Regions from separate parts of the Homo sapiens genome. Here regions 1, 2, 4 and 5 are each linked to region 3. The links come from fine-mapping of genetic effects on gene expression. A gene starts in region 3. Each other region holds a variant in brackets. All regions are shown on one strand. Distances are between the middles of the regions. Region 1 holds the start of ANKLE2 (ankyrin repeat and LEM domain containing 2). Region 2 overlaps GALNT9 (polypeptide N-acetylgalactosaminyltransferase 9). Region 3 holds the start of FBRSL1 (fibrosin like 1). Region 4 overlaps LOC105370092. Region 5 overlaps FBRSL1 (fibrosin like 1).

The links. PIP is the estimated chance that this variant, and not a neighbour inherited with it, causes the effect.
Region 1: its variant is fine-mapped to the expression of FBRSL1 in whole blood (INTERVAL, PIP above 0.99).
Region 2: its variant is fine-mapped to the expression of FBRSL1 in T cells (TOPMed, PIP 0.95).
Region 4: its variant is fine-mapped to the expression of FBRSL1 in pancreas (GTEx, PIP above 0.99).
Region 5: its variant is fine-mapped to the expression of FBRSL1 in whole blood (TOPMed, PIP above 0.99).

The regions. Positions count from the first base shown.
Region 1 is chr12:132,756,871-132,761,993 of GRCh38, forward strand. It overlaps ANKLE2 (ankyrin repeat and LEM domain containing 2), which reads right to left and starts at 4,962. Exons shown (of 13, transcript NM_015114.3): 1 at 4,748-4,962. The coding sequence starts at 4,928. RefSeq lists silencers at 573-752, 4,411-5,000, 5,091-5,123 and an enhancer at 4,308-5,123. The variant GTATACT/G (reference allele first, on the strand shown) is at 2,651.
Region 2 is chr12:132,205,593-132,210,715 of GRCh38, forward strand. All of the region lies in intron 6 of GALNT9 (polypeptide N-acetylgalactosaminyltransferase 9), which reads right to left. It overlaps LOC105370091 (a long non-coding RNA gene), which reads left to right. Exons shown (of 6, transcript XR_007063541.1): 5 at 1-88; 6 at 195-1,509. Among named protein-coding and RNA genes, the nearest start is that of LINC02361, 18 kb to the left of the region's middle. The variant G/A (reference allele first, on the strand shown) is at 2,341.
Region 3 is chr12:132,487,815-132,492,924 of GRCh38, forward strand. FBRSL1 (fibrosin like 1) reads left to right here and starts at 2,337. Exons shown (of 19, transcript NM_001367871.1): 1 at 2,337-3,047. The coding sequence starts at 2,757. RefSeq lists enhancers at 1,298-1,427, 3,425-3,988, 4,702-4,771 and silencers at 1,618-1,687, 1,818-2,267.
Region 4 is chr12:132,423,813-132,428,935 of GRCh38, forward strand. LOC105370092 reads right to left here. Exons shown (of 4, transcript XM_047429966.1): 4 at 695-5,123. Among named protein-coding and RNA genes, the nearest start is that of MUC8, 48 kb to the right of the region's middle. RefSeq lists an enhancer at 4,863-5,123. The variant T/C (reference allele first, on the strand shown) is at 2,241.
Region 5 is chr12:132,510,932-132,515,931 of GRCh38, forward strand. All of the region lies in intron 2 of FBRSL1 (fibrosin like 1), which reads left to right. Among named protein-coding and RNA genes, the nearest start is that of FBRSL1, 23 kb to the left of the region's middle. The variant G/A (reference allele first, on the strand shown) is at 2,927.

The DNA of each region.
Region 1 (5,123 bases), 270 kb after region 3:
CAGTGAGCCGAGATCGCACCACTACACTCCAGCCTGGGCAACAGAGCGAGACTCCACCTCAATAAAACAACAACAACAAAAAAAACAAAAAAAAAAGAAATAAGTAAATAAACAAAAAGATGGGGGAGACACCCACATGGAATACTAGCCAGAAGAAATGCACCTAACTGTATTACAAGTGAGTAACACAGGGGAAGCTAACCTACGTAACTTTGGAAAACAGTGAGTGACTAGGTGCTCTAAGGAGAAAGACAAAAAGGACTGTGCACCATTACCGTGTGAACAGGCTCTAGGCAGTAGATGTTTTCACAATGGTATAGGTTAACACACCTAAAGCTATTTTCTGTGGACTCTAGGGCAAAGCAAATAATTGGAATACACGGTGGCTGATGAGAGCCAGGACTCTCAATGACAGAAAGGAAAGTGGGAGTGAGAACAGGGTTTCAGCAAACGATTCCTGTAAAGGGCGAGAGAGTAAGCATCTCAGACTCTATGAGCCAAAGGCCACGTGAGTGCTCAGAACAGCCACAGGCCGCGTGTGGCGGCTCACACCTGTCACCCCAGCGCTTGGGGAGGCCGAGGCGGGAAGATCACTTGAGCCCAGGAGTTCAAGACCAGCCTGGGTAACACAGCGACACCCTTTCTACAAAAACTTTAAAAATTATCTGATGGCTGGGCGCGGTGACTCATGCCTGTAATCCCAGCACTTTGGGAGGCCGAGGCAGGTGGATCATGAGGTCAGGAGATTGAGACTATCCTGGCAAACACGGTGAAACCCTGTCTCTACTAAAAATACTAAAAAATTAGCCGGCCATGGTGGCGGGCGCCTGTAGTCCCAGCTACTCAGGAGGCTGAGGCAGGAGAATGGTGTGAACCCAGGGGGCAGAACTTGCAGTGAGCAGAGATGGCGGCACTGCACTCCAGCCTGGGCGACAGAGCGAGACTCCGTCTCAAAAAAAAAAAATTAGCTGAGTGTGGTGACGTGCACCTGTGGTTCCAACTACTTGGGGGGCTGAGGAAGGAGGATAAATTAAGCCTAAGAGTTTGAGGATGCAGTGAGCCCTGTTTGTGCCACTGCACTCCAACCTGGGCAACAGAGCAAGACCCCGTCTCCAAAAAAAAAAAAAAAAAGAACAGCCACAGATATACATAAACAAAAGGGTATGGTTGTATTCCAATAAAACTTTACTAAGGAAAATAGGTGGGGGCCAGTTTGGACCACAGTTTACTGACTCTTGCATTAGAATAAAGCCAGGGAGCCGGACACGGTGGCTCATGCTGGTAATCCCAGCACTTTGGGAGGCCAAGGTGCATGGATCATTTGAGGTCAGGTGTTTGAGACCAGCCTGGCCAACATGATGAAACCAGGTGTCTACTAAAAACACAAAAATTAGCCAGGCATGGTGGCATGCACCTGTCATCCCAGCTACTCAGCAGGCTAGGTGGGAGAATCGCTTGAACTGGGCAGGCAGAGGTTGCAGTGAGTCTCCAGCCTGGACAACAGAGTGAGACTCCACCTAAAAAAAAAAGAATAAACCCGCGGACGTCGCATTGAAATTGGAAGTATCAGTATGATCACAAGGTCTTTGACAGATCGATGGGTAAAGATGTGAGAAACAGCTAGGTCTGAACACTGGGTTATAATGTTCCATTAACAATTTTTTTTTTTTTGAGATGGAGTCTTGCTCTGTCGCCCAGGCTGGAGTGCAGTGGCACGATCTCTGCTCACCGCAACCTCCACCTCCTGGGTTCAAGCAATTCTGCTGCCTCAGCCTCCCGAGTAGCTGGGATTACAGGTACCTGCCACCACGCCCCGCTATTTTTTTGTATTTTTAGTGGAGACTGCCTCACCATGTTGGCCAGGCTGATCTTGAACTCCTGACCTTGTGATCCACCTGCCTCGGCCTCCCAAAGTGCTGGGATTACAGGCATGAGCCACCGCAACCGGCCAAGTACACAACTTTTGAGACTGGCTTTTCCTATTCAGCATAATGCCCTTGAGATCCACCCACGTGGCAGAGTGGATCGCTGCGGAGTGGCACCCCGGGGCACCCACGTGGCAGAGTGGATCACGCAGTGTGGCACCCCGGGGCACCCACGTGGCAGAGAGGATCGCTGCGGAGTGGCACCCCGGGGCACCCACGTGGCAGAGTGGATCGCTGCGGAGTGGCACCCCGGGGCACCCACGTGGCAGAGAGGATCGCTGCGGAGTGGCACCCCGGGGCACCCACGTGGCAGAGTGGATCACGCAGAGTGGCACCCCGGGGCACCCACGTGGCAGAGAGGATCGCTGCGGAGTGGCACCCCGGGGCACCCACGTGGCAGAGTGGATCATGCAGAGTGGCACCCCGGGGCACCCACGTGGCAGAGAGGATCGCTGCGGAGTGGCACCCCGGGGTATCAGTGTGCAAGTTTAACCATTTGAGTTATTTCAGTTTCTGGTAATTACAAATAAAGTTGCTATGAACATTAAATATGGGTTTTTGTGTGAAAATAGTTTTCATTTGTCTAATAAAAGCTCAGGAATGCAGGGCAGGTTTAACTTCCTAAAAACCTGCCAGGCTGATTCCCAGAGTAGCTGCACCACTTACCGTCCCCACCTGCAATGCACGAGGCCCAGTTTCTCTAAATCTCTGCTGACTATATATAT[GTATACT/G]ATATGTGCTATATGATATACACGTATCATATGCCATGATATACGTATATTATACATCATATATAAAAACATATTTTTATATAAAATAAATCAGTATTTTTTTATTTCAGCCATTCTCAAAACACCACCCTCACCCGCCGCCACCTTGTCCGCAGCTCTGCCTGGATGATGCCGCTGGTGACAGTAACAGCACTCAGAGGTGCTTAACACATACCAAGTGCTGCACTTACCCAACTCCCAAAAAAGCCTAACCAGGTATCACTATCATCCCCATTCCTAAAAGAGCAGGCTGAAAACAGGTTAAGCCCACAGCAATAAGTGGTAGGGCCCGGTGCGATGGCTCACACCTGTAATCCCAGCATTTTGGGAAGCTGAGGCAGGTGGATCACCTGAGGTCAGGAATTCGAGACCATCCTGGCCAACATGGTGAAACCCCGTCTCTATTAAAAATACAAAAATTAGCCGGGCGTGGTGGCAGGCGCCTGTAATCCCAGCTACTCGGGAGGCTGATGCAGGAGAATCGCTTGAACCCGGGAGGCGGAGCTTGCAGTGAGCCGAGATCGCGCCACTGCACTCCAGCCTGGGCCACAGGGCGAGACTACATTTCAAAAAAAAAAAAAAAAAAAAGTGGTAGGGCCGAGACACAAACTCACACAATTGGACAGGAATCCCCACTCAATCATCAGAAAGCACCTCTCCGCAGTGACTAACAGTCTGACAATTTAGAGTAAAAACAAACTCAGTTTCTCCCACTAGTCTTGCAACATGCTTCGGACACCAGGTATGTGGGGATTTTCTCCCCACAAATCACGCAGGTCGTCAGTTCTGCAGTGGACACAGGCTGGGTGTCGTCTGTCATCCTAATTCAGTCATCTATTCTGACAGCGTCTTCCTGGAGATACCAGCAGACCCCCACAGGTTAACGGCTCAGCCCCGCAAGACTGCCCCCCACTTCCAGTGCCCAGGTTGTTTGACCTGCGCTTGGGACCGACGGGGCGTAACCCGGTGACCTCCTCAGGTTGCGGTAATTTGCTAGAGTGGCTCCCGAACTCACAGACATGTTTTACTTACACTTACCAGCAGAGTATAAAGGATTACAAAGAATACAGGTGAAGAGATGCGTGACGTAAAACCGGGGGGAAGCGCTTGGAAATTCAGGGCCTCTCTGGGCACCGCCTCCAGGAACCCCCACGTACTATCTGGAAGCTCCCTGAACCCAGCCCTTTTGGGTTTTTACAGGAACTTCATTTCACAGGCGTGATTCATCAGCCACTGGTGATCAACGCAACCTTCACCCCTCTCTCCTCCCCAGAGGTTGGGGGTGGGGCTGAAAGTCCCCAGAACCTCTAACCCTGCCTTGGTCTTTCCTGCGACCAGCCCCATCCAGAAGCTCCCTAGGGGCTGCCGGCCACCAGTCCACTCAGCCTACAAAAGACATCACTTTGGAGGTTCCCGGGATTTCAAGAGTTGTATGCCAGGAAAAGGGGATGGAGCTGAAATACACAGTTCACTGTATCAGTTACCTCAAACTTAAAACGACCAAAACCCACCTCTGATCTCCACATCACCCAGACCCGACAGTCTACCGCAAAGCAATAAATGGCCACCTTCTCCCTCTTCCTCTGGCCCCAAACCCCTGAGTTACATTTGCCTTTTCCGTCTCTGCCTTATGTTCCATGACCAGTAACCGCAATGGCTTCACGTTCCAAACACATCCGGGACCCAGGGGTTTCCTCCCCGCGCCGCCCTCCTTTGGGCCATCCCTCCCCAGGTCTCGAGAGACCGCAGCAAGAGTCTCCGCTAACGCCTCGCCGGGCCCCCGCCGCCTTCCCCGGAGGCTGCTCCAGGGCCCGGGAAAGCTCTCACCCCCGAACCCGGCGTGGCCCCTCCGCCCCCGGCCCGGGAAGCCAAGTCCCCGCAACTGCCCTTTCCGCGGCCGGAATGGCCTTTCCCGACCGGCCCTGGTTTCCCCGGCCGCCTCGCCCAACTGCTGCCGGCTCCAGGGGCGCGGCCGGGACCCCAGGCCCGAGGAGGGCGTCGGGGCGGGGAAGGGGCCAGGGTGCGGGGACCCAGCGACCGCCTGGGCCTTACCTGAGGCGGGGGCGGCGGCCGCGCTTGGCGGAGGAACTGGGGTCCCGCTGCGGCCCAGACCTCCCGGCCGCGGGCCCAGCCGCCGCACCAGCCACCGCACAGCGATCAGCAGCACCGAGGCGCCCAGCAGCTCCCAGGCCAGCGCCGCCCACTCGGCCGCCGCCAGCCGCGGCCACAGCATCGCCGCCGCCCGGGCCGCAGCCGCCGAGAAGCCCGCGCCCCGCGCCGCGCCCGTCCCAGGACCCCGCGCCGGGCTGCCCGCGCCCTGCCTGACGGCGCCGCGCTCGAGGCGGCCGGGGCGGCGCGGGGGACACGGACGGCGGCCCCGCTCGCGGAGGCCCGGCGAGGGCGCGGCCCCGGCCCTGGGACCCAAGCG
Region 2 (5,123 bases), 280 kb before region 3:
TCCGCGGCGCCGCCGTGCCAGGCTGAAGTTGGCCTTTGCATCCCGAGGGAGCGAACCGCGTTTCTGCATCAGGTTCACATCGTGGCAGGTGGTTTCTGGGTTTCTGTCTGTTGTCTCTGCTGTGGGACAACCTGCCTGAGAAAAGCCTGGGGTTTTCCAGCCCCCTGAGCCGGGGCTTCCTTTCTGCCTTCCAGACTAGGGTCGGGATTTCTGTTCGCAGCGGGAAGGGGCCCCGCTGGTGAATCCCGCCCACCGCCCTCCCACTCCGCGGATGTCTCCCACCCTCAACCTGAGACCACCCAGGTTTCGTGAGAAGGAGGGGGGAAGCACCTCGGAGCCCTGCCCTTCGCTGGAAGGGGCCGGAACGAAGGAAGCTCTGCAGGGGCGGGACAGAGCCTCGTCCTCCATCGTCTGCCCACCCGTCTTCAGAAGCGCCTGGCACACTGGCCTCTGGGACGACCTCCAGCAGTTTCAGCCTCCTTGTCTACCCCCAGTACAGAGGCCACGGTGACTCGGTCCCCCCACCCACCACAGAATCCTGTCCTCGGGCCTCACGCTGGGGAACACGAAGCCCCCCAGGGCTCCTGACGCCTGCCTTGCCCACCCCCTGGGTTCGAAGCACCTTGGCCTTCCCAGCACCCCCACGTGCACCCCTCAGGGCCTTGGCACAGGTGGTGCCCACGCCGGGCGCCCTTCCCAGGTCTCTGCATGCTCCACTGCCTCCAGCCTTCAAAGCTCTAGTGCCAGAGAGATTAGTTAAAGGCACAAAACCAGCCGGGCACAGGGGCCTCACACTTGTAATTCCAGCACTTTGGGAGGCCGAGGTGGGTGGATCACTTGAGGCCAGGAGTTCGAGACCGCCTGGCCAACATGATGAAACCCCATGTCTACTAAAAATACAAAAATTAGCTGGGCATGGTGGCAGATGCCTGTAGTCCCAGCTACTCAGGAGGCTGAAACATGAGAATCTCTTGAACCCGGGAGGCAGAGGTGACAGTGAGCTGAGATCACACCACTGCACTGCAGCCTGGGCGACAGAGCGAGACTCCGTCTCAAAAAAAAAAAAAAAGGACCAAAACCACAGGCAGAGAGGAGCCAGTGCTGGTGCCGCTGAGGGAGGACCGTGGACCTGACCGTGACCCAGCCGGCAACTGGGAGGAGGAGCCGAGCCCCCACACAAGGAAATGGCAAATGTGGAGATGGCGGCTGACCTGAGTGCGGCACGCCATACCCCGTGAACGGGGACAATCCTATTTGTCCATTAAAAAAACCAGCGAGCCTGGGCAACATAGTGAGACACCACCTCCACAGAAAAAAACAAAATTAGCCAGGTGTGGTGGTGCATGCCTGCGGTCCCAGCTGCTTGGGAGGCTGAGGCGGGAGGATCACCTGAGCCCGGGAGGTTGAGGCTGCAGTGAGCCAAGATCACGTAACGCTCTCCAACCTGGGTTAAAGAGTGAGACCCTGTCTGAAAACATAAAAAGTAAAAATAAACCCCAAATGTCACCATCAAGTCTTCAGGGTGAGTCCTCTCCCTCCATCCTGTTTAGAGCCGCCGTCCTTGCCCCATAGCTGGGCGTCCGGACCAGAGGCTCACACCCCTCAGTATGGCGCCGCCTGCTATCCGTCCCCGTCTCTGCCTGTCCCTCCCCATGGCTCAGCTCCGCAGGACAGGGTTTCTGTCGCTTCTGCTCACAGCTGCCTCCCAGTGCTCAGAGCGAGGCCGGGCACACAGTAGGTGCTTGATAAATAGCTGCGGAACGAATGTGTTCCCTTTAGGAACCCCACAGCCACTTACGGCCACTCTGTCCCCGGGGCCTTCTGTGGCGCTGGGGCGATTCCACATGGGAACCTGGTGGGACTGCTGGGCGGTCTGCGAGGCCTCCCCAAGCCAGCTCCACAGGTGCCAGCCCCGTCAGTGTGTGCTGAGCTTGCGGGTGGTGCCGAGGCCCCTTCTTGGGTGAATGCAGCCTCAGGTCTCTCGGCCCTCGGGTCCCCCACCGTGTCTCTAGAAGGACCGAAGCTACGGGAGAGGCGAGGCTCCCGGGCGGTGGGAGTCGGCCAACTTCCATCATTAGCTGAGGACCTGTCACAGCCGGGGACTGGGCTGCTTCAGTCTCCGGGCTTGGGCCGCAGACCCCTGAGCTTTCGGGGTGTGTGAGGTGCCCCCTAAGCACAAGGGCCCACGGCTTGCGTGACCTGGCTTTTCAGCAGGGCCATTAGCTCAGGAGTGATAAAGTCGGAGAGTGAACCCCCATGCCCTCAGCAACATCCCCTTTCCAATCCCTGCAAAACAGGGAAAGAACAAGACAGCCCCCACCCCCCACCACGACTCCTCGC[G/A]CAAGCAGCACTGGTGTGTGGCGTCCCCACACCCGGGGCAGGTCTCTTTTCTGCGTCAGAGTTAATGACCGTGTAGTTTTTCACATATTTTGAAGCCAGGGACCAGTATATCATCTGCCTTGTGCCGCGCTCCCCGGGAGATTGATGCTTATGCAGAGGGAGAATTTAAAGGCTCTCCCATCACAGTCTCAAGGGAAACAGTTTAACCCCTCTATAAATTTCAGATGAATATTGGCAATAACTTCTCCACTCTGTGGGCCAGAGGAGACCAACACCTAAGGATCAGGCAAAATCCTCCCACAGGAGCCAGAGGCACTTGGCCCCCCTCTCAGGGGCTCTCAAGAGGCAGGAGGCCCGGGCCCCTCCCCTTCCTGGCCACACTAGAGGAAGATCAGGTGAAGGAGGCCGGAGCCCGGCTGGCACTCTGCACTGAGAGCAACTGGGGATAAGCTGGACTCGCCTTCTGGCGTCTGTGTGTGCAGCTCTCCCCACTGAGAGGGGGACGCTATCACCCTAGGCCTTCGTCACGTGATTTGCTTGGACCAACAGAAAGGGCCAGAACCCACCCAGTGCCAAGGCCAAGCTTGGGCCTCAGGAGACTGCACTCACACCGATCTCTGTCTTGTAACCTGGCCGCCAGCATGAGGATGAGAGACCATGTGGAGCAGAGAGAAGCCGCCCAGCTGAGCCCATTCCTCCCCACCCCAACCAGCCAACCCCGCTCACCTGGCTGCTGACTGCCGGCATCAGCAAGGCCAGCTGAGAGCAGAGCCGCTCTGCTCCACATAGACCATGTGCCAACCCAGAGTTGTGGGCCAAGGAAATGGTTGTCTTAGGCCGCAACATTTCAGAGTGGATTGTTACACATCCAAGAGCTGACCCATCCATGCTGCTTTGGCAGGTACAGCTGGCAAAGACCCTCACTCCTGTGGCTTCCTTGCATGCAGCACATAGTACCAGTTAATGCTAGTTACTAGCCATGCATCCCCACTGCCCAAGACAATCCGAGTTGATACCCCTGTCTTGGGGTAATTATTAATAGCACCTCTGGTAACTCTCAGGTGTCCTGGTTTGGGTGACGATGCCTGTGGTCACCCCCGTGCTACCTGACCATCTGGCCCCACAGCCAGGGCGGAAGTCCAAGCATTAGAGCCATTCAAACCACATCGTGAACAGGGGCTGGGTAAGATGAGGCTGAGACCCACTGGGCTGCATTCCCAGATGGTGAAGGCACTCTAAGTCACAGGATGAGATAGGAGGTCGGCACAAGACACAGGTCACAAAGACCTTGCTGATAAAATAGGTTGCAGTAGGCCGGGTGCGGTGGCTCACGCCTGTAATCCCAGCAGTTTGGGAGGCTGAGGTGGGTGGATCATGAAGTCAAGAGATCGTGACCATCCTGGCCAACATGGTGAAATGCCGTCTTTACTAAAAAAAATAAATAAATAAATAAATAAAAAATAAAAAATTAGCTGGGCATGGTGGCGTGCACCTGTAGTCCCAGCTACTTGGGAGGCTGAGGCAGGAGAATTGCTTGAACTTGGGAAGCAAAGGTTGCAGTGAGCCGAGATCGCACCATTGCACTCCAGCCTGAGTGACAGAGCAAGACTTCATCTCAAACAAACAAACAGGTTCCAGTAAAGGAGCCGCCAAGTCCCACCAAAACCAAGATGGCAACGAGTGACTTGTGGTCATCCTCACGGCTCATTTTATGCTCATTATAATGCATTAGCTGCTAAAAGACACTCCCCCCAGCACCAAGACAGTTCACAGATGCCATGGGAACGTCAGGAAGTTACCCTGCGTGGTCTAAAAAGGGTGGAGCCCTCAGTTCGGGGAAATCCTGCTGCCTTTCCCAGAAAACTCAGGAATAATCCATCCCTTGTTTAGCAAATGATCAAAAAATAACCACAAAAGTTAATTAGTAAATAATCAACCAGCAGCCCTGGGGGCCACTCTGCCTGTGGAGCAGCCATTCTTCTCTTTACTTCATTTCTTTACTTCTCTAATAAACTTGCTTTCACTTTACTCTGTGGACTCGCCCCGAATTCTGCCTTGTACAAGATCCAAGAGGCCTCTCTTGGGGTCTGGATGGGGACCCCTTTCTGGTCACACGAGGAAGACACGGGTGGCGTGGGTGACACACCAAGGCTGAGGGGCCGTCACTAACTGCAGAGGCCAGAGATGGGAAAACAGGAGACTCCTCCAGAGATGGGTGGGTCCCTGGGGCCCGTCGTCTGCAGGCCCCGGGCTGGCACATCACAGCGAGAGGAGAGACAGGAGAGGGGCCCTGCTGCGCGTGGGCGTTGGGTCAAAAACTCCCCCTGTACATTCAGGACTGACGTTGTCTTTGGCGGCGCTGTGGGCCTGGCAAAGGGCCTGCGGGCGAGGCCGTCCCGTGAAGTCGGACCTGTTCTTCTGGTCAAGGCAAGCAAAGCAACAGGGCTCGTAGGGTTCTCCTGGAAGCGCTGGGGACATGCGGCCTTCATCGTGAAACTGTCATCTAGAGGGGAGGCAGGCGAGGCTCAGACGTCACACTCATCACGTGTGGGTGCAGCTGGAGGACTGAGTGGGGCCATGAGGCTTGGGCAGGAGGTGCGCCCTGGCTGGGGACGGCTTCCTGAACCCCAGCTCTGAGCGGAGATGGGTGGCGAGTGGGGTTAACTGGCGGTGAGACACAGGCATGCTTGAGGCCCGAGCCCCGTCCTCCTGGGCTGTGGGGCTGTGCAGAGCTGGCATGGGCAGGCTGTGCTGCGGTCAGGGAAGCTGACCATCTTAATGGT
Region 3 (5,110 bases):
CACTGGGGTCACACATCTGAACATCTTCGGAGATCAGATAAACAAACAGTGTATGTCTATAATCAGAAACTTCAGGCTGGGCACAGTGGTTCACGCCTGTAATCCCAGCACTTTGGAAAGCTGAGGCGGGTAGATCACCTGAGGTCAGGAGTTCGAGACTAGCTTGGCCAACATGGCGAAACCCCATCTCTACTAAAAATACAAAACATTAGTCAGACATGGTGGCATAGGCCTGTAGTCCTGGGTACTCGGGAGGCTGAGACAAGAGAATGGCTTGAACCCGGGAGACGGAGGCTGCAGTGAGCCAAGATCACGCCACTGCACTCCAGTCTGGGTGACAAAGTGAGATCTGTCTCAAAAAAAAAAAAAGAAAAAGAAAAAGAGAAAGAAACTTCAAATCCAAAACCTCAGACCTTCCCAAGCAATTCTTCTGGGGGGGAGGGGGTGCCCACAGGATGCCCCTTGCAGTCTGACTGACCTCTGGGCCCAGCCTAGGGTGGGATGGCCTCTGGGAGCCTCGGGGAACAGGTGAGGACTCCCAGGCTACTTGGGAAGAGGCCTGTATTTAAACAAGAGCCTCAAATGCCACCTGGGTGACCCTCGCCCACATTTCCTGGCCTTCTGTCCAGGGAGGGGAATTCGGGAGCAGGCGTGCATGGAGAAACTACTCGGGGTCCGTTTCTGTCTTCCTAATGAGGCTTTTAAAAATCAAAAGGGAGGATGCTGGAGGGTGAAACCACGGTTTAACAAAACCCGGAATGGGAAGAGGGGGAGGGGGACCCTGCCCCCACCCTGGGGAGGCTTTGACAGGGAACCAGAGAGCGGGCTGGGTGGACTGGAGGAGGCTGGGTGAACAGGAAGTCCCCCCACCCCAGTGAGCTACTTTCCCAACTGCCTCAGCCCAGCAAACAGCCAGTGGTGCCTGGACCACACCCTTCCTGCCCTGCACAAGAGGCCGCCAGTAGGCTCTCCCAGAGGCAGGGTAAAGTGGACCCCGCAGAGTGGGCGAGGACCCGTTCCCACTAAGGGCAACCGAGGGCAGGGTCCCACCACTGTCTTGGGCACCCTCCCCTCCGCCCTCCAGCAAACCACCATTCTTCTCCGAGGGCCTGTGCAGGGGTGTAGCCCCGACCTGAAACAGGGTGCCCATGACTGCTGGGGCTCGGAGTCGTCACTCCTCGGGGAGGCCCTCTGGACCACCCAATGCCCACTCTCTGTGACACCTCCCCGTTCGATTTTCTTCAGATTATCCTTGGCTGATATTCTATTTGGCCCTGTGTTCAGGGTCTCTCTCCCACTTCTAAGAGGGTAGTCTATCTCAGCCGCTGCGGGGTCACCAACAGAGCCTGGACACAGGAGGCATCTGGCAAATACGCGCTGCATGAATCAATGACTCCAGTGCCCACGCGCAAGGGGCCCCTGGGCTCAGAAAACCCCACCAGGCGGGCCCCTCCGAGCTCGGCCTGTCCTGGGGGTGGAGGAGGAAGTTCGCCCCGCGCCTGCCTCGCAACCGCAGCCGCCTCCGTGCGCTTCCTGCCCGCGCCGCCCTCCACACTGCGCTCCGTGTCTGGCAGCAGCCCCCGCCTCGCTGGGCGCGTTCCCGGGGGTCTCGGTGGCGGGAGCCGCCTTCTTGTGGGACTTGGGGGCACGTGGCGCGGGGCGGGGACGCGGACAGACCCCTCCCGCATCCTAGGAGGCCTGGGAGGGTCCGCGGGGACGCGGGGAGGGGGCACCGCCTGGCCGAGGACCCTCCCCCGGTCCTCCCCGCCCCTTCCCCGTCCCTTCCACGCTCGCCGAGGGCAGGACTTCGGTTCCGCGAGACCGGAGGCCCCTCGTCCTCCTCGGAAGCCGCCCGCGGCCGGGGACCCCAGTCCCGCAGAGGAGGGCGGCGCTGCCCCCGCCTCCCGCTTGGAGAGCGCCGCCCGCAGGTGCCCACGGAGGGGCCGCGGCATCCCAGCGCCCTCCCAGGAAGGAGCCGAGCGGATCACCGCCGGCTGCAGCGGAGGTCGGGGCGCCGGGGAGGGGCGCGGCTAGGGGGCGAGGTCGAAGGGCGGGCACCTGCGGGTGGGGCGGGGCCTGAATTAGCGGGAGCGCCCGGGAGGGGCGGGGCCGGGGCCTGCGTGAGCGGGTCGGGGAGGGGGCGGAGCCTGCGGGGGGCGGGGCCTGCGTGAATGGGGCGGGGAGGGGCCGGAGCCTTGTGAGCGGGGCGGGCCGCGTGTGCGGGGTGGGGGCGGAGCCTTATGAGCGGGGCGGGGCAGGGGCGTGGTCGGGGCGGGGCGCGCGGGCGCCCGCGGCGGCCCTCACTTCCTCTGGCGAGCGCAGCCGGGCGGAAGTGCGTCAGTTGTTATCTGTTCGGGGCGCCGCCGCCGCCTCACGAGCCCGGTGCCCAGGAGCCCGGCCGCCTCCCGCCTGCCGCCTGCCGCGCCCGCCCGGCCCCGCCCGCTCGGCCCGATCGCCGCGCCGCGCGCATGGGGCGCGCCCCCGGGGGGGCGGCCGAGGGCCGCTGAGCGCCGGGCCCGCCCCCGCCGATGCGCCCAGCCGCCCGCGCCGGGGGTCCCAGGCCGCGCCGGGCCCGGGGCTGAGCCGCCCCCCGCGCCCGGCATGCCCGGCCCGGCCCGCCGCCCGCCGCCGCCCAGGGCCCGAGCCCGCGCGGCGCACACTCAGCCCGGCGGCGCCGCGTAGCCGAGGGAGCCCGCCTGCTGCGAGCCAGGCGCGGGGCGTCAAGGTCACCGGCCCGACGGGGCGCACGCGCGGCCATGGAGGCCAAGGTCCGCCCGAGCCGGCGCTCGCGCGCGCAGCGGGACCGTGGCCGGCGCCGGGAGGCCGCCCGCGACGCCCGCGCCCAGAGTCCGTCGTCGGGCGACGAGCCCGAGCCCAGCCCCGGCAAGGAGAACGCGGGCCTCCGCGGCGCGCCCCCCCGAGGCGCCGCCCCCGCGCCCCGCACCGCGCGTCCCCCGCGCCGCCGCCGCCGCGAGTCCAGCTCGCAGGAGGAGGAGGTCATCGACGGCTTCGCCATCGCCAGCTTCAGCACCCTGGAGGCCCTGGAGGTAGGTGGACGGGTGCGGCTTCGCAGGCGTTGAGGCGAGAACGGGGCCCGGAGTTGACGCGTCGGGCGATCCCGGGACCCCTGGGCTTGCGACCGCCCGCGCCGTGGGCAGCCCTGAGGGAAGCCCCGGCCACTTGGTACCCGTTCCAGGGACCCTGGGTGCCCACCGCTCGCCCAGACCGTCGCATCTGGAAGACCCAGCAGCGTCGGGTGGGTTTGGGGACGTTTTAAGTTGCAGAGGCAAAAAAATCTACGCTTCGAAATTGGGGGCTGTCTGACAGCACCGTCGGCCTTTTATCAGTTGTGTTTCTGTGGCCAGCATATCGCTCTGCCTGGTTCAGGACGTGCTAGGGAGCAGTGCTGGATCTTAGGGAGGTGGTGATAAAATGGATACTCCGCGGGCCATCCCGTTCCCTCCTCCCTTCGAGGGCTCTGCTGAGAAGGGGAGAAGGAGGGTTAATCTCAAGACCCCTCTTGGTGACTGCTGCCTGCTGCATGGTTAATAGATTGGCCAAAAATATTGCTTGTCTGGCTGACGGACAGTATTTGCTGAGCAAATACTGCTCCTCTTACATGAACTCAGCTGAGCAGAGAAGGAAATTAAATGCTGTCTGAGAGTTGGGGCAGGCGCTGTCTCCCCAGGACTGGCATGGGCAGGAATGCTAGCAAGTTGCCCTGCACCAGGGCCGAGACCCGCCCAGCGAGGTGTGCCCCGTGCAGCACTTACTTTGGGGGACCCTCATCTGCTGGACTTTGACTCCCAGAATCACCCCATTTCCAACCCCTCTCACTTTTCCAGGGGCTTGGGAGCCCATGGCCTGGGATCCCCCAGTCTCAGAAGCTGAGCTTTGGGAAAAGGGGAGATGCCTACTGCAGGCCCCTGAAGCAGCAAGTCCTCTTCAAGTTCTCATCCAAACTCTGGGGACTGTAGAGAGCCTTGGGTCAGGGCCGGTGGCCAGGGAAGTGGCCCCAGAACAGGTGCCGCATCGTGTCCCGAGTGCACAGTCAGAGCTGGGGCTTCGTGTCCCAAGTGCACGGACAGAGCTGGGGCTCCTGTGGGCCCAGGACGGGGTGGGTGGTGGCCAGGCTCATCACACAGGCTGGCCATCCTCTGTCCTGCACATTATTAGATGGCTCCAGGGCTGGCACACGCCATTGCTCTGTGCTGGGACGGGATGGCCCTGGGGCTGTCTTCTGCCCTCTCAGTGGTGATAATGACACAGACTGTACGTGTACTGAGCAATACTGCAAGCCAGGCCCTGCGCTCGGCTCCTGCACTGCAGCTGAGACCACGAGGATGCCCACTTTCCAGAGCTGTCGCCACCCACCTGCACCTCCTGGGTCCCTAACCGCGGCTTCCTCACTGCTCCGAGCGGGTCAGCCCTTGTACCCTGCCGTTCTCTGTCTGCTTTATGTTTGGTGCCATTGTGTCTTTGCAAAAACGTCACCTCAGACTCCTCTGAAGTGGTGCCCCCCACCCCCGTCGACGTTGCCCACCTTCTTTTTGTCATCCCCACTCTGCAAAGCTGTTTTAGAATGTCTTTGCTCTCCATTTTCGTCTCCCACAAGAACTTGTAAGCTGAAAGAGAGCAGACACTGTGCTGTCCTGTGTGTCTCCTATGGGGTCTGGTGCCGGGAAGAGCTCGATGTGTAGAAAGTGCCCCAGATGCGTGTGTCAGGAATCTGAGTGAGGAGATGAACTGTACTCAGGAGATCCAGGGCCAATCCCAGGCCCACGTGTTTTGCCCGCAGCGGCTCTGACTGGCTGTCCACCTGCTCTGGCAGGGTCACGTGCCCCCAGCCTGCAGGCAGTGGGTTCAGTGGGTTTTGGTGACTTCGGCTTAGACCAGCTGGCCCCTCAGGTCATAGTGAGACAAGTCTGCTGCTGCGTGGCGTTAACACAGCCACAGCACCCCAGGGTGGTTTCATGTCCCTTCCTCTGCCCTTCGGAGCCTGCCTGGGAAAGTACGGGGCTTCTGCACAAGTCATAACCTCGTGATCATCCCATACGTGTCTCTTGGTTGTCTACATTTTTTGCCAAAGTATGGTGGTTTTTCCCCAAAG
Region 4 (5,123 bases), 64 kb before region 3:
CCAGCAAGCGGGTGCTGTGGGGTTCACCCTGATGTGTGCGTGACTCAGAAGGGCGGCTGCACCTCTAAGTTACTGTCACAGCAGAGACCTCCCCTGGGCGAGGCAACTGGATCCACAGAGAGAACATGGGCTGCCCTCCAGAAAGCACCTCCTGCCCGCGGGGCACGCGGAAAAGGCCCAGCAGTTTCCCTTCCCAGGGCGGGAGCTACGCATCCAGGACCCAGCTGCAGACCCACAAGGGCCTGGGCTGCGGGATCCCCAGGCCAGTGACCTCCACCCTCGCCTAATTGTCCCAGCTGCGTCTCCTTCACGCCTAGTTAGATTTTGTTGTAAAGAGATAAAAGGCTGTTACTTTGTATCAGCAAGGCGTCTTTTTCTGCAGGACTGAGTTCACGAAAGGGGAAGGCGGTGGGCGGGGGAGTAGAAGGAAGCGGGGGCCGTTAATAGACTTTGGAATAAAATCCTGACAGACTCAAATTGATTCTGCAGCCTGAGAAAAATGGAGTGCAGAGGAAATGAGATTTATGCGCTGTTAACTCTGCAACTGCCTCTCAGTGTCTGCACCAAAGGCTGTTAAAATGGTGATCTTTAGTCACGTATGGAAATTGTGTGTGAAGAGACGGATGAACCGTCCAGGAGCAGGCTCCTTCCACGCCGTGTCTTATACACAGTGATATTATTATCAATGACATAATGCATTATGGGTGTAATTTAATCCGAGCATCTAAAGGTACACGCAAACCAAAGGTTCCTGGCACATGTTCCACGCCTGTGATTACCAGAGAACTCTGGGGGCTGTGAAGACAGTGGCGGGCCCATCAGTCACTGGCGCCTAGTGGGCTGTGGGGGTCTCACCTCTCCCAGCTTGGGGTGGGGAGGGCTGGACCCACTTTTACTCACACGCCAGCCCCGATCCAGGACACTGCTCAGGAGACCAGGCCCTCCCTCGGGGACAGGGCCCTGGGGGATCGTCAACTCCTTCCACAGCAGGGCAGAGCTGTGCCCACCCTGCCACGACCAGCTCCTCCACAGATGCCTCCTGTGGTGTTTCTTGTCATTGCTTCTGGGGGACCTAGGAGTAAGGTGTTCTGGACATCGCTGAGAAACAGCCCTGGGCCCCACTCCCCTCATTGGAGAGGCAGAGCCCTATTCATGCTTGAGGGAGTGTATCAGTCAGGCTGGGCTTGGCTGGGCTGTGTAACAAACAGCCCCACACCACAGCAGCTGAGCACTTCACAGATGCATGTCTTTCTCACATGTGTGTCCAGCGTGGGCCAGCAGGTGCCTTTGCTCTTTGTCATCACTGGGGGACAGGGACCCAGGTGTCAACACACATCCACAATCCCCAAAGCAGGAAGCATCATGAACTCGTGTTTAAAGGCTAGAATTTCATTGGCCAAAGCAGGTCACATGGCCGGGCCTAACTTGGAGAGAGAGGGAAAGCATAATCCTAAATGCGTCTGGAAAAGGAGGCCAAAATATTAGTGGGCGGCGCCACTGACTTCCACGTCTGCCTTCTGGACTAATCGACTGTGTTCACTCCCCGTCATGGCTCCCCAGGTGAGACGACCCCAAATCACAGCCATATCGGGTCTGGGTGACCCCAGACACCTCTTCACCGGAGACTCACAGACTGAAGAGATTGGTCATTGCCTCCCTCATGCTCGGTGCACAGTGGGTGGCAGGGAATGGACATGATGGCCCCAGCAGCAGGGAGAGAGAGAAGGGAGATGGCGGCAGTCGCTGGTCCACAGAGGACCTGAAACCCCCGGGAAGGCCCCTGAGCACCCACCCTGGTGCTGGTCCACGCTCCCTCACTCAGTCCAGATTCAGTTCCTACCTGAAGGTCACCTCCCTTTCTGCCATCCTCCGAGGCCCCTGGCTCTGCCCTCCGAGAGGTTTCTGATTCCTCCATGACCCTTCTCGGCCAGTACGAGGTGGGTACCCAGGACACGCCTTCCTTGGGGCCGGTGAGTCTTCGCCGCCCACCTCCTGGTCGCAGGAGTTAGTGGTGGTTTGCATTAACGCACACGTTTCTCTTGTAGACTGAGTGGGTGCCATCCTGTCATCGCGACTCTCTCGAGACCCCAGGAGCTTTCTCATCTCTGGCTTCAGCCAGCTCCACATGCAGCAGCCACCCCTGCAGCTCCTCCGCCATCGACCTTCCCAGGGCCACAAAGCCTTCCGCCCATGCCGATGGCTCAGCTGAGTTTCAGGGACGTCATCCTCCTCTCCCTACC[T/C]GGTCACTTTCCCCTGCGCCGTTTTGTCCAAGTGAAAATCACCATGCCCACATGGCACCTTCACCATGAGACGCCTCGATGCACGGGAGATGAACAAGGCTGTGACGCCGTGCCCTGCTTGAGACTTTTGTCAGTGCACTTTCTTGATCACTTGGAGTCTACAGTCAGCCGGCTCTTCCAGCTTTCTGGGAGTGTCATATTTTGAAATCTCCTTGTTCACTTTCACGCCTGCTGGCAGGATGGACAATTCCTGTCTGGGTCTGGCTCCTCAAAAGATCTCACTGGCATGTCTGCCGACGTGCGATTTTCCAGCCTTTCCCTAGAGCTGCGGTTTCGTCAGGTTCATGGTCCAACTTCCAAGTTGCCGAGTCCAGTCTGACCGAGTGTTCCACACCGAGTGTGCTCCGGCCTCTGCCCCGCCTTCTCTCTGTCCTCCACGTGAGCAGGACACGTGCTCCAGGTGCCCTGTGGCTGCGGCAGCACCTCATTTCTTGGAGCTGGTTTCTGCGCTGTCAGGATTGCTTGGTTCTGCTGCTCTAACAAACAGTCCCCAGACTCAGTGCCTTCAATGGCGAAGGCGTATCTCTCACTCAGGCAACTGCTCTCACACGTCCTCAGGGGACCTGCTGTTTGTCCTCACTCAGGGATGCAGGTGGAGGAATGATCTGTTTGACACACCTTTCTGCGAGGACTCAGTTGGCCAGAGGAGATGTGGCGAAACGCGCTGGGCGGGGGAGGCCTCTGCCGGGGTGGACCGGGGCACCTGCTCACATTCCCGCAGCAACGCAGGCTCAGGCTCACGCTTGGATTTGCCCTCCACTCCTGCGGTTTACTCCTTGAACAAATGTTTGCTGAGACTCCACCGTGTGTCAGACACTGCTCTAGGCCCTGGGGGTGCTGCAGGGGAGAGAGAAGACACAGGAGAACCCTGCTTTTGTGGAGTGTGCGTCCCAGTGGCAGCGGGGGTAGGTTGACAGCTGGAAGGGCCCGATGCTGATGAATCCTGCAGAGACAAATAAGCAGGAGCGGCAGGGACACGGGAGGAATCTGAGGCTAAGCAGAGAGATCAGGGAGGGGCTCACTGAGAAGCTGATGTTGGAAGGCGTGAGGGAGCAGCATCTCAGGCAGAGGGAACCTCCTGTGCAAACACAGTGGGAATGTTCAGGAAACTGCCCCATGTGGCTCAAGGCCAGGAAGCAAGGAAAGAGCAGGCGGTGGCCAGGGGGTGACGAACGGGGCGGGGCCTGGGGCGGGTGGCCGGGGGGTGACGAACGGAGCAGGGCCTGGGGCGGGTGGCCGGTGGGGGGGTGATGAACGGGGCGGGGCCTGGGGTGGGTGGCGGGGGGGGGTGACGAACGGGGCGGGGCCTGGGGCTGGTGGCCGGGGGGTGATGAATGGTTCAAGGCCTGTTGGGGGGGTGATGAACAGGGCAGGCCTGGGGAGCAGGCAGTGGCCAGGGGGTGACGAACAGTGCAGGGCCTGGGGTGGGTGGCTGGGAGGTGACAAATGGGGCAGGGCCTGGGGCTGTTGAGACACTAGGAGCCATGAGCAGGGAAGTGCTGTGAGCTGATCTGGTCTTGACATAATCATGCTGGCTGGGAGGAGAGGGCGGGGTGAGCCTGCGGCATCTACTGACTCCAGCATCACAAAGGGTCCCACACTTGGCAGCTGAAAACAGCACACACTTATCAGCTCCCATTTTCCTTAGATCAAGGATCAGGTATGGCTTGGCTGGATCCGCAGGCTCAGGGTCTCACAGGCTGCAATCCGGACTCAGCTGGGCAGGGGTCTCATCTCCCATGGGGAAGAAATGGCTCCGAGCTCAGGCATGTAGTTCTGGGCGGGATTCAGTTCTTCAGGGCCTCAGCTCCTCACTGGCGTTTAGCTGGAAGCCGCCCTCAGTCTCTTGCCCCATGGCAGCTCTCGGCACAGCCACTGGTTTCACCAGACCGTGGGAGAGGGTGAGAGGGATGAGCAAGATAGACCAGGGTCTTTCCGCGACCAGATTTGGAAGTGACACCCCATTGCTTTTGCCATTTTCTATTCATTTGAGATAAACCACAGGTCCCGCACATGCTCAAGGGAGGGAGCGCACAAGGACTGAGCACCAGCAGGGGCACCACGGGCCGTGTGAGGCTGCCCCATAGAGGGCGAGAGCAGCAGCTGCTGGCTACTGCACCAGTCCAGGCCGGAGACAGCAGTGTCTCGGACCAGGTGGCCGGGGTGGAGGCCGTGAGAAGCCATCGGATGCTGGGTACTTGCAGACAACAGGATCTGCTTCAGGCTGGGAGGAGAAGAGCCGCGCCTTGGCCTTCACCTGAAGGGGGCTGCCGTCACCTGAGATGGGGCAGCCGTGACCCATGACCTGAGATGGGGCAGCCCAGCTCCACTCTAGACAGGGTCCCTCCCGTGCCCTGGGACCTTCCTCCCAGTAGAAGGTGAGGAGAGCGTGGTGGGAAACGCAGAAGGCTTGTGAGCAGCGGGCAGGGCAGACAGTCCTCACGGGGAGACACCCCACGCCCAGCTCCAGCCACCCACCCGGGGCACAGCGGCCTGCCTGTTGTCACTACCAAGCTCGCCACCACATGAAGGGGCTGCCCCTGCTGGGAAGCCCTGCCAGCCCCAGAACCACCAACCCTCCCATTAATCCGCTTTAAACCCACGACGAGGTGGGGGCCCGTAAGCAGCTTTTCAGGTGAGAGACAATGTCCCCACGCAGCGCGTTGCCCAGGAGACCGCAGGGCTGAGCTGCAGGCTGAAGTCGGCCCGCTGTGTTTACGCTTCCGTATGTGTTCACCCTGCTCCACCCCAGGCCCAGGAGGGATTCAGAGGCTGAATTCCTGAGAGCACAAGAGCACAAAGAAAAACTCATGTGGGCAAACG
Region 5 (5,000 bases), 23 kb after region 3:
CCTGGTGTGTGCGTGCTGTGTGTGCATGTGTGCGAGAGGGTGTGAGAGTGAGTGGCGTGCTGGGCATGAAGGATCTGTGGGGTGCTGCAGTTCCTGCAGAGTGGCCCAGTGGCGAATGGTGAAGGTGTGGGTTTCAGTCCAGGCCCTCCCCCTGGTAGTCAGGAGGTGCTGGTGTCCACCTCCAGGGCCCCCAAGCTACAGGGGGCACATGGGCCCATCTGGTGGGTCAGGACCTGCAGGGGACCCGGAGGCTCCCACCCCCACCTCTCAGGACTCTGCCTCCACCACCCCCGTGGGCATGCACTGAAGGGTTGCCTGCAGGGTCTCCAGGCGAGGGGGACCCCACAGGGTGGGCAGCGCCTTCTCCCGGCTTCCCCACAGTCCCCTGCAGCGTCCCGTCTGGCTGTTGACCTACATGTGGTCGGGCACACCTCACACTACAAGGCTACCCCTGGGCCCATCCCTGCCCCTTCCACGGCCCCCACCTGTGGTCAGGTGTTGCCACCCCCTCAGGACCTGGTCTCAAGGCAGCCCCACTCGAGTCTTCTGGAGTCCAAGGCACGCCACTCGCCCAAAAGGGAGGGGGTGTTTGGGGGGGCTTTGACTGTCTCCAGACCTCAGGGGAGCTGGGCAGGCTCTAACCAGTGGTCCTCCAGAGAGCAGCGTTGACCACCTGGACCCCTGCGCCACGTGACAGGAGGCTCTGGTCCTGCAGGCCTGGTCTTGCCCAGCTGGGCTGCCTCAGGTGTCAGGAAGGGGATGGGTGTCCCTGGCTCCCAGGCCAGGCAGCTGCTGACCTCCAGCACCCCGCACTTGCTCATGAGGACCCCACCCCCGCAGGCCCTCCCGGGTCCTGACCAGCCTCTGGTGCAGCATCTGCTTTGGCCTCCGGGCCCCCTCGCTCCCCACCCACCCGGGCCCCTTCCTCCGGTGCTCACCTGGGGCCTCCATCCCAGAAGCGCAGGGCTTATTTTTCTGATTAAAGAAAATAAAAAGTGCCGTGCCACTATTTTTTATAACAGCATCAGCGTTTGTAATTTAAACAGACGAGCATGTGTCTTACGTGATTTATTCCCACAAAGGGCTTTTGTGCTGGGCTTGGCTCGGGATTCATTGCACTCTGACCGAACAGAGGGGAGACCTGGAGCATCTGTTCCTGACCTTCCTGCCCACCCATCTGAGGCCTGGAATGGGGGTTTGTACTGTGCTCAGCATGGGGGCACCGGCCTCCAGATCCCCCCACCGCAAGGCTACTGTGTGGGCCAGTGTGACAGGGGTCGAGACCCCCCTCTCGGCTCATGCCTGGGGGGCACCCATCCCCGGGATCAGTGTCCTGGGGACTGGTGAGGGAGGGTGGTTCAGCTCAGAGTCCTCTGCATGGCCTGGGCACGCGTGAGGGAGCATGGTTCAGCCCAGCATCCTCTGCACAGCCTGTCAGGTGCTTGTGTTCTGCTCACGGAAGGCCGGGGCATGGAGGGGCCGAGTCCTGGCTGCAGCGCCCTGGCTGAGCTCCAGGCTGGACCTGGCACACTTGGGGTGCGGGCTTGGAGGGCGGTGCCATCTCAGAGTCACCCACACAAGCCATTGCCCCGCAGAGGGGCTGAAGTTGCCTTCAGACGTCCCTGTTGTCAGGCGTGGGGAACAGTGATGATTTAAACAGTCTCCTGCCCTCTTTCCACTTTCAGGCCCCTGCCCCTACCCCCGGGCTCCTGTGAGTACAGAGGGGGCCGAGTGAGTAGAGCCATGTCTGGGGCAGGCCTGAACGGGCTGAGGGAGTGGGGAGGGGCCATCCATGCTGGAGCTGAGCAGTGGCACTTGGCTGCCCCTTAATGGGGAAGGCCAGGCTGCCAGGGAGGGCTGAGGAGAGCTGGAAACTGCAGCCTGGGTCCCTGTGGCCAACAGCTGGGGGTGCAGAGGACACCCGTGGAGGAAACATTCAGGACCCAGAGGGGCTCTCGAGGCCTGGCCATGACCCTGCAGCCTCCAGCTCGAACCCACTGTCTGCACTGGCTTGCGGTCGGGGTGCCGCCATGGGGAGGGCAGAGACACCAGGGCGCTATGGTGCTGGACATCCATGTTGTGTCCTGGGGCCCGCGCCCTGGTGGGGACACTGCTGCCAGGCGTCGCCCTGGGAAATGCAGATTTCGTGTGGCCAGATCTTTGATGTTTCTGAAGAGCTGGGAATCCAGGTTTCTCTGGATTTGGCAATGTTGAAATGTTGGTGGTCAATTCTAATTTTTATGACTCACTTTGCTGACCAGAAGATGCAGCTGTGGGCCTGCGAGGCCTCCGGCAAGTGGGATTTGGCTCCCATCACAGGCAGCAGATTGGAGCCTGAGGCCTGGTTGGAACATGGCTTGTTCCCTTGTTTCTGGAAGGGGTTGGTACTCAGTGGGGCTGCGCCTGCCCAGGAAGATGGGCTTGTGTCCTGGCTGCTGTAGAGGGGGTGGGGGCAGCCCAGCCTGAAGGTTGAGGATGGAGGTGTCTTCCGGGGGGTGACAGTGGGGATCTGGGGGAGGCTGCCCGCTGCCCGACTACAGAGACCCTGTTGCTGCCTCAGGAACCCCTCTGGAGACTGGGGCCTGCGTGCAGTGCTTTAGTGACCATCAGCCCTCTGGTCACCTCTGTGGGGGCCTCTGCCCACCTTGTTGTTGTTGGCACAGGCAGGCTGGTCCCCTCCCATCTGCAGAAGGGGTTATGGGGAGGGCGTGAGCCTTCTGGGAGAGGCCGAGGCGTGTTCCTGCAGAGCCCACGGCAGACGAGGGCAGTGGTTGGTTTGTTGTTGGGGGAGGAGAAGGGGAGGTCGGGGTGGATTCCTGGAAGATGGGTGACACTGAGACTGTGGCGGTGGGGCCAACCCCACGAGGGGCCTGGAGCTCTAAGGCCCTTGGGTCCTCCCCAGGTCAGGCCAAGTCCATGAGCCATC[G/A]CTGAGCAGCCCCCAGGGAGGGAGGGGTGTGAGCGTGGGTGGGCTCCCGGCACCTGGCCCAGCATCCACGCCTGGTGTGTGGGCATCTGCCTGCAGACCCTCGTCCGAGGGCCCCGTCTCTCTGGACCCCTCACTGCAGGTGAATAGCCACAGTCCCTCCCCCAGGCCCTGCCCTGCGTGTTGGAAACACCACCTCCTGGGCCTTCCCCGTTTGCTCATTCGGGATCCTTGTCTGGGCACTGAGGACGATGAGCTCCGCCTCTGTTCTCGCGTCAGGGCTCGGCTCCTCCGTGTGTGGGGAGACAGGCTGGGATAGCATGCTGGGCGACTGTGGTGAGGGCAAAGACACAGAGGGCATGAGTGGGGGGCTGGGGGGGCACCTGGATGTTCAGAGGCCAGAAGGCAGGACTACCCGCAGGTGCCCAAGGGAGACCCAGGGCCGCCCAGAAGTCCAGGGGGAGTCCTGGGGCCTCGGAGGGATCTGAGCAGGGCTGCGGCCTGACCCAGGATCTCTCTGGCCTCCCTGGCGTCTTCCCAGGTGGCCCAGGACCGCAGTACCAGACTGAGCTGGACTGGCATTGACCAGGCCGAGGCCACCGGCCATCCTCCTCCGGCCAGAAGCTGCAGTGATAGGGGACATCCCTAGCAGTTCACAAAGCTGTGGGGAGACCCCGAGGGGGAAGGGTTTCCATGCTGAGCCACAGGCCCGGCCACGGTGCAAAGCTGTGGGGGGACTCCGAGGAAGAAGGGTTTTCATGCTGAGCCACAGTCCCGGCCATGGTGCAGGGATTTGGCACGAAGCCTCTCCTAGGGCCGGTACACGACCTAGAGGGCTCCCTGGTGTACCCTGGGACCTGGCAGAGTGCAGCTTCTCATCCAGCAGGGGTGGGTAGGGCCCTGGACTCTCCTAGGGCAGCACTGTTTAATAGGAGTGTTATGTGAGCCACATATAGAGTTAAGAAGAAATAAGTAAAATTCATTTTAATGAAGTATTGCGTTTCACTCCATGTACTTTGAAAATAGTATTTCAACAATGTAATCTATATAAAAATTGTCACATCTTTTTTACTCTTTTTTTTGTAGAGTCTGGGAAAGCCAGCAGGTGTTTTACATTTACAACACTTGAGTTTAGACTGGCAGCTTCTGCGCCCAATAACCACAAGGCTGACAGCAGGGAGGTGTGGGGGGTCCAGAACAATATACCCTCTGTGAGTGCTTATCTCATGCCCATGCTGTTCCCAGGCGCCTGCTGTCTGTCTCCTCATCCTCTACCTCATCGGCTCTATGGTTTGAGGCCAGACCTCATGCATCAGGCCAGAGTGTCCTGCCGAGACCCAGGATGCACCCCTCACTTGGCACAGACAAACCAGACACACCAGCTTCTGTCTTTCCCCATTTCAGTGGGTGAACCTGGAACCACCCAGATGACTGGGCTAGAAGTTGACAGTCATTCTCCTCTCCTCACTCCCCTGTCCTCCCACCCAGCACACCCAGCCAGGCAGGTCCTTAGCTTCCACCTCCTGAATCTCTGACCTGAATTTCACTAGAAAATAAGGAATACTACGTCAAAATTTATGGGATGCAGCTAAAGCAATCCTTAAAGGAAAACTAGCTTGTGCTTATATGGGAAAAGAAGAAAGGTCTAGAATCTTAAGGTTTTACCTTAAGAAACCAAAAAAAAAAAAAAATGGAAGGTTTGTAAACCTATAAAGGAAAGCCATAGTATAGACAAGAACAGAAATACAGAAATTAATGAGGCAGGCCAGGTGCGGTGGCTCACGCCTGTAATCCCAGCACTTTGGGACCCCAAGGAGGGTGGATCACTTGAGGTCAGGAGTTCAAGACCAGCCTGGCCAACATGGTGAAACCCGTCTCTACTAAAAATACAAAAAATTAGCCAGGCACGGTGGCGCACACCTGTAGTCCCAGCTGCTTGGGAGGCTGAGGCATGCCAATCACTTGAACCCAGGAGGTGGAGGTTGCAGTGAGCTGAGATCACGCCACTGCACTCCAGCCTGGGCAACAGAGTGAGACTCCGTCTCAAAAAAAAAAAAAAAAAAAAAATTAATAAGGT